Homo sapiens: one gene and its partner. The protein of the gene in region 2 interacts with the protein of the main gene of each other region in a pairwise test. Each region holds a gene or a part of one and is shown on either strand. Other genes may lie near its edges.

Region 1 (3,825 bases), on a different chromosome or scaffold from region 2:
AAGCCAAAATTGACAAATGGGATCTAATTAAACTAAAGAGCTCCTGCACTGCAAAAGAAACTACCATCAGAGTGAACAGGCAACCTACAAAATGGGAGAAAATTTTCGCAACCTACTCATCTGACAAAGGGCTAATATCCAGAATCTACAATGAACTCAAACAAATTTACAAGAAAAAAAACAAACAACCCCATCAAAAAGTGGGCCAAGGACATGAACCGACACTTCTCAAAAGAAGACATTTATGCAGCCAAAAAACACATGAAAAAATACTCATCATCACTGGATCACTGGCCATCAGAGAAATGCAAATCAACACAACAATGAGATACCATCTCACACCAGTTAGAATGGCGATCATTAAAAAGTCAGGAAACAACAGGTGCTGGAGAGGATGTGGAGAAATAGGAACACTTTTACACTGTTGGTGGGACTGTAAACTAGTTAAACCATTGTGGAAGTCAGTGTGGCGATTCCTCAGGGATCTAGAACTAGAAATACCATTTGACCCAGCCATCCCATTACTGGGTATATACCCAAATGACTATAAATCATGCTGCTATAAAGACACATGCACACGTATGTTTATTGCGGCACTATTCACAATAGCAAAGACTTGGAACTAACCCAAATGTCCAAGAATGATAGACTGGATTAAGAAAATGTGGCACGTATACACCATGGAATACTATGCAGCCATAAAAATGATGAGTTCATGTCCTTTGTAGGGACGTGGATGAAATTGGAAATCATTTCTCAGTAAACTATCGCAAGAACAAAAAACCAAACACCGCATATTCTCACTCATAGGTGGGAACTGAACAATGAGAACACATGAACACAGGAAGGGGACCATCACACTCTGGGGACTGTTGTGGGGTGGGGGGAGGGGGGAGGGATAGCTTTAGGAGATACACCTAATGCTAAATGACAAGTTAATGGGTGCAGCACACCAGCATGGCACATGTATACATATGTAACTAACCTGCACATTGTGCACATGTACCCTAAAACTTAAAGTATAATAATAATAAAAAAATAAAAAAATAAAAAAATAAAAGAGTGATCACGTAGGCCCAGCGCGGTGCTCACGTCTGTAATCCCAACCCTTGGGAGGCCGAGGTGGGAGGATCACTTGAGGTCAGGAATTCAAGACCAGCCTGGCCAACATGGTGAAACTGTGTCTCTACTAAAAATACCAAAATTAGCTGGGAGTGGTGGCACTTGCCTACAATCCCAGCTACTCAGGAGACTGAGGCAGGAGAATTGCTTGAACCTGGGATGCAGGGGTTGCAGTAAGCCGAGATCACGCCACTGCATTCCAGCCTGGGTGACAGATTAAGACTCCATCTCAAAAAAAAAATTAAAAAAAAAAAAAAAAAAGAGTGATCATGTAAAGACTCTTTGAAAAAGTGTTATTTTATTTCTTTTTTTAGAGACAGGGTCTTTCCACTCTGTCACCCAAGCTGAAGTATAGTGGTACAATCACAGCTCACTGTAAGCTCAAATTCCTGGGCTCAAGTGATCCTCCTGCTCCAGACTTTTGAGTAGTTAGGACTATAGGTGCACATCAGCACACCTGGCTAGTATTTTCTTTTCTTTTTTTGTAGAGACAGAGTCTCACTATGTTGTCCAGGCTGGCTGGTCTTGAACTCTTGAACTCCTGGCCTCAAGTGATCCTCTCACCTATATATTTTTGTCTGCATTTCTATATTTTGAACATTTCCCATGCTAAAAATTAACTTATGTTCATAAATGAGGGAAACTTGAATCAAATGAATAGTTAAAAAAGAGAAGAGTAAAACACATTTACAGTGACTATCCCCAAATTTATCTGCTTTCAAGTTTGGATTTTAGAATATGTCATTATTTTAATGTGACATTTTTCCTAGAGTTTGTTTAACTTAATCATAGGATTAAACTTTAAAAATAACAGATCATTGTTGACTGACATAAACACCATCAATTATGTCACACAATTATAAGCTGGAAAGTCTACTTACACTTGGTATTATAGGAGGTGTCAAGGTACCTTTTCTTAAGCCTTCCCAGTTAAAGCCCTCAAACCATCTAGAAAAGGAAAAAACGTTGATAAAAACATTTTGTGTCAGCTAAAAGCTTCTCATTGCAGTGTATACAATGTCCATGGCTAATGGGAAGCAGTTAGGCAAACATTTTCATGTGACAAAAATGTTTTCTATTTAATTGCATATGTTTTCCTAATAGTTTATTTTATGAAATACATATTTTTAAAAGTATAACTGTCAAATTTTAAACACCAATTAACATGCAACACTTATTCCTTGTAATTCAGTCATAATGTCTCTATGACCTTGTTCCTACACTATAATTAAAATTTAATACATGTCATAATGTGTCTGGCCCTGTGCCTTACAGGATATTTTATTTTAAGGAGGTAGAACCAGGGCATGAAAAGTCAGGATAGAAAATTAACTTTCCATTTTTGCCACTGATTCAGTGCACAGTGTCAGCTAATTAACCTTTTCACATCATTGTCATAGTCTCTACATGTCCCATTTTCTTCTTTTTTTCCCTTTTTTAATGAAGAATAAAGATATTTTGTGTACAGTTTTTCTGTGAAAATAAGAACCAAAAAAGACTAAAGTTTTTGCTTGTTTGTTTTCTTTTGTCTTTGAAGGGTTTCAGCATTAGCAAATGCTTACAACAAATTCTTAGCAGGCTTTTCAGATATTCAGAGATATTTTAGTAAACATGTTTCTTTGATAAGGATGTGAATTTCCTGTCAGTGTTACACAAACAAATAGAGAAAACCCAATTAGTTTAGCTTTAGAACATCCAATCAACATAGGGAAGGTCTGATATTTAAGATGTTGCTATTGTTTAAAAAACACTGTATTCTGTACTTATGTTTTTCTCCTGTTATAACATCTAATTAGGAAATGCTTGGAAAAATATATTTTGTCTTTAGGAAATCAGGTAAGATACAGTAGGGGACTTTTATTTGTAATTCTGTGGTAGAGAATAGAATCCCCAAATTTAAAATACACATTTCCCCTTTGTGCCAGAGGGGAAAAAAATGCTAGTTGGTATGAGTTGTAAGAAACTGAGTTCAGCTTCTTATGTTACAGGGTTGTCAGATAAATATAAATAAGGTTTCATAATCACAACTAGAAAGGCATTTAAAAGCCTTACTAGTTTATACGCTGTCTTTGGATGTTCCTATAGGCTAATTATACTAGTTTTACACCAATAACTTAAAAAGCAACACCCTGGGGAAATGATGTCACGTGTTCAGAACTCTGCAGAAAGAACACTTACTTGTGCTTTTGAATGTCTTTTACTCCATTTTTCAAATTCCCTAATCTTTCTGATGGATTGTCCCTAAAAATAAAATAATGGTTTTATTAAATCTAATTTTTTCACATTATGATGTTTTCAAAAATAATGTGGTTGAAATACTTACCTGCATAGTTTTTTAATTAAATTAGCAGCATTTTTGGCAATCTTCTTTGGAAATTCTATCATGTCAATCCCCCTCAATATGATGTTATAGGTTTTCATAGGATCTGGGCCTGAGAAAGGTGGGCTGCAAGAATGAGAGACACGACAAGAGATATTACTTTTATTTTCTACATGAGAACACTTGAATTGCTATAAACTCCACAGATGACATCAATTCATATTTGGGGGCTTAGATTAATAGTGACAATGGAATGAAAATAGATTAATAGCAAAACAGTGTGGAAGCCCTTCCAAGTAAATCACTTAGTGAAACCAGAAATGGGTCAAGTTTATCTGCTCTTCTCTTGCTTTCTTTTAAGTGCTGGAGTCTAAGCCCTCATG
Region 2 (3,227 bases):
ACCACGCCCAGCTAATTTTTTGTATTTTTAGTAGAGACAGGAGGTTCACCATGTTGGCCAGGCTAGTCTCCAACTCCTGGCCTCAAGTGATCTGCCCACCTCGGCCTCCCAAAGTGCTGGGATTACAAGCACCCCCAGCGCCCAGAATGTTGAACAATTTCTGGGAATGTGCTCCTTGAGGACTGGACCCTCAACAAGGGGCTGTACTCTGACAGCCCCCAAAATAGTGCCCAGGGAATATTTGCCGAACTAGATCCCTCTGGGCTCCCAGGACTGGCTCCCAAGCAGCCTTTCTTTCACCATAAGGTTTAGATGGGGTCCACATGAATTTCTCAGCTAACTCTGGATCTGGGCCATGTTACTATCCCAGGGCCTGGCACTCAGTAGTCACTCAATAAATGTTTACTGCATTGAATTGTGTCGAATACAGCAGAAGGATAGAAGATAAACAGGAGGCAAGAGCAAGGGGCGGGTAGGAGTAAGAATTTATTAGGTGCCTGCTGGGTACCAGGGTTTGTGCTAGGCTTCTTGCAATCCTGAGATAGACATCATTTTACAGATAATCCGCTAAGGCTTGGAAAAGTTAAATGACAATTATGTGGTAGACATTTTTAATGGGTTTCTCACATAATTCCTGTGAGATAGATTTTTTCCCTCTTTTTACAGATGAGGAAAACCATGGCTCAGAGAGGTATAGCAAACTGACACACAGCCAGCTGTGGAGCTGAGATTCACAGCCTCACTTATGCTGGCTCTGAAGCCATCTTTACCACATCAAAGGTGGAGCAGAGGGTCTTTTTTTTTTTTTTTTTTTTTTTTTTTGAGACAGAGTTTAACTCTTATTGCCCAAGCTGGGGTGCGTGGTGTAATCTTGGCTCATCGCAACCTCTGCCTCCCGGGTTCAAGCAATTCTTCTGCCTCAGCCTCCCAAGTAGCTGGGATTACAGGAGCCTGCCATCACACCTGGCTAGTTTTTTGTATTTTTAGTAGAGACGGGATTTCATCATGTTGGTCAGGCTGGTCTCGAACCCCCGACCTCAGGTGATCCGCCTGCCTCAGCTTCCCAAAGTGCTGGGATTACAGGTGTGAGTCACCACGCCCGGCCCACAGAGGGTCTTAAAATCAGATTCCTGCTGGGAACTCTCCAGCACTGGCCCGGAAATACTTTTACATCGTTTGACAAGAGGGGCAGCAGGAACCTGAGTCTCTGGTTACAGTCAAGTTGATGAGCCCAGGTTGAACTCTTAATATTATGAGAAGGGGAACTTGGGAGGCGAAAGGGCTAGGAGCTGAAACGGGCTGTGCAGGCACAGGCTGCCCCAGGATGGCATTTCCCTCAGCCACCCTGCCCTCCCCATTCCCTCTAGGAGGGGGCACTGTACCTTCCCCATTAGACTCCATTCTTGAGGCTGTGTTGACTGTATCCCCAAAGAGACAGTAACGGGGCATCTTCAGTCCCACCACTCCAGCACACACAGGTCCTGGGAGGAGCAAGGGAAGGAGCAGAGCCCATCAGCGAGTGAGGGAGGGAGGGGTGTTAAGGGAGGTAGGTGGACAATCCAAGACAGGCAGGAGGCAGGATCTGAGGTCCCAGCTCTGTGTGTGTGTGTGTGTGTGTGTGTGAGAGAGAGAGAGAGAGAGAGAGAGAGAGAGAGACAGAGAGAGAGAGAGAGAGAGAGAGAGAGAGAGAGAGAGATGAAAGGGCGAGGGGCTGGGCCAGGGGACAAGTTTCCCTTGCGAAGCCTTGGCCTCTGGATGCCCGCCTGCACCTTCAGTGGCCTTACCTGTGTGGATGCCAATGCGCAAGCGCAGCTGCTCCTGGGGCCGGTGGCGGATTCGGAAGGAGCGCACAGCATCCAGCAGTGCCAGGGCCATGCGGGCTACCTCGCAGGCGTGTAGCCGCCCGTTCCGCACAGGGAGCCCTGACACCACCATGTAGGCATCGCCAATTGTCTCCACCTGTGGGAGTGGCGAGGGGGTGCAGGACTTGACGGCTGCAACTGTGCGGCCGGCCACACCGTCACACCGGGTGCAGCGTCTGTCATTCTGTACCCTCATCTGTCTTTGCTCATCCCCCATCCCACATGGGTTCTCTGCCTGTTCCCGGGTCTCCCTGTGTCACTGTCTCTGCCCGTGTCCCCGATCTCCTCTCTTAAGACTCCACATCATTCTGCCTACCCCTCATCTTTTTCTGACCTTGTCCATGTCTGTCTGTCCCTTCCCATCCCCACTCCCACCCTCACCTTGTACACATCAAAGTTGTCTATGACAGCATCAAAGCAAGTGTACAGGTCATTGAGCAGGGTCACCACCTGGAAGGGAAGAGAAGCTAAGAGAGACAGGAAGTAGGGGACCCCACCTGGGGTCAGGTGGGTAAAGCAGAACCAGAAGGCAGGTCTGGTGGGATCCAGATGCTGAGCTTGCCTGGCACCTGTGGCTGAACCCTGGCCTACCTGCATGGGTGTGCTCTCCGCCGACAGCGCTGTGAAACCCACAATGTCACTGAAGTAGATGGTAACACTGTCAAAGGCTTCGGCCTGCACCGTCTCCCCACGCTTCAGCTGCTCAGCCACTGAGCTAAGGGGTCAGGGCAGGTGCAGGATCAGAGTTGGGGGTCGGGACAGGGGCTTTGTGTTGGGGGGGGTCCCCAGACTCAGGCACTCACTGAGGCAGGATCTGGTAGAGCAGGGCCTCAGCCTTGCGCTTCTCCTCCAGGTATGCCTGGGTCCGCTCCTCCACCAGTTCCTCCAGATTGTTCGCGTACTGCTCCATGCGGGACAGCAGGTTGTCCAGGATGTTGCTGCTGTTCTCCCTGGGGGCAGAGGGTGGCGGTGGGGGTGGTAAGAGAGGAGCAGCACAGCCTACCGTGAGCGCCCGCCCCTAGGCACTTCCCCCTCCAGACTGCAGTGAGGTCTCTAGAGACGCTCAGGGTTGAGGGCATAGCAGGATACCGGGGAGCAGGGGAAAACAGAAGGAAGAAAGTTCAATTCTTTTCTGAGACCCCAAGGTCAAGTATGAAGCTTCAGACATATGGACATTTTGTTCATCTTTGTTGAACCCAGTGAGTTAGAAGGAGGTAAAGGAGGTGGAGAATGACAAGGGTCAATTGCGGACAAAGTGATGTCCACAGAAGGGTGTGTCTGGAGGAACTGGGCCTGGTGGGCACGCTGGGGAAGGGAAATCAAGGGGTGGGGCAGGAGCTCCCGTGGAGGGCCAAGAGCCTACAG

What was found.
Region 1: the proteins of NPR1 (region 2) and PRKG1 interact in a two-hybrid assay, tested with the Homo sapiens proteins (one study listed by BioGRID).

What each region holds. Positions count from the first base shown.
Region 1 is NC_000010.11:52,288,469-52,292,293, reverse strand, and holds part of PRKG1 (cGMP-dependent protein kinase 1), read right to left. Parts: intron 3,569-3,825; coding exon 3,446-3,568; intron 3,364-3,445; coding exon 3,301-3,363; intron 2,071-3,300; coding exon 2,004-2,070; intron 1-2,003. UniProt on the Homo sapiens protein: Serine/threonine protein kinase that acts as a key mediator of the nitric oxide (NO)/cGMP signaling pathway. GMP binding activates PRKG1, which phosphorylates serines and threonines on many cellular proteins.
Region 2 is NC_000001.11:153,688,538-153,691,764, reverse strand, and holds part of NPR1 (atrial natriuretic peptide receptor 1 precursor), read right to left. Parts: intron 2,813-3,227; coding exon 2,666-2,812; intron 2,578-2,665; coding exon 2,454-2,577; intron 2,313-2,453; coding exon 2,244-2,312; intron 2,061-2,243; exon of another isoform or gene 1,972-2,060; intron 1,960-1,971; coding exon 1,785-1,959; intron 1,482-1,784; coding exon 1,383-1,481; intron 1-1,382. UniProt on the Homo sapiens protein: Receptor for the atrial natriuretic peptide NPPA/ANP and the brain natriuretic peptide NPPB/BNP which are potent vasoactive hormones playing a key role in cardiovascular homeostasis.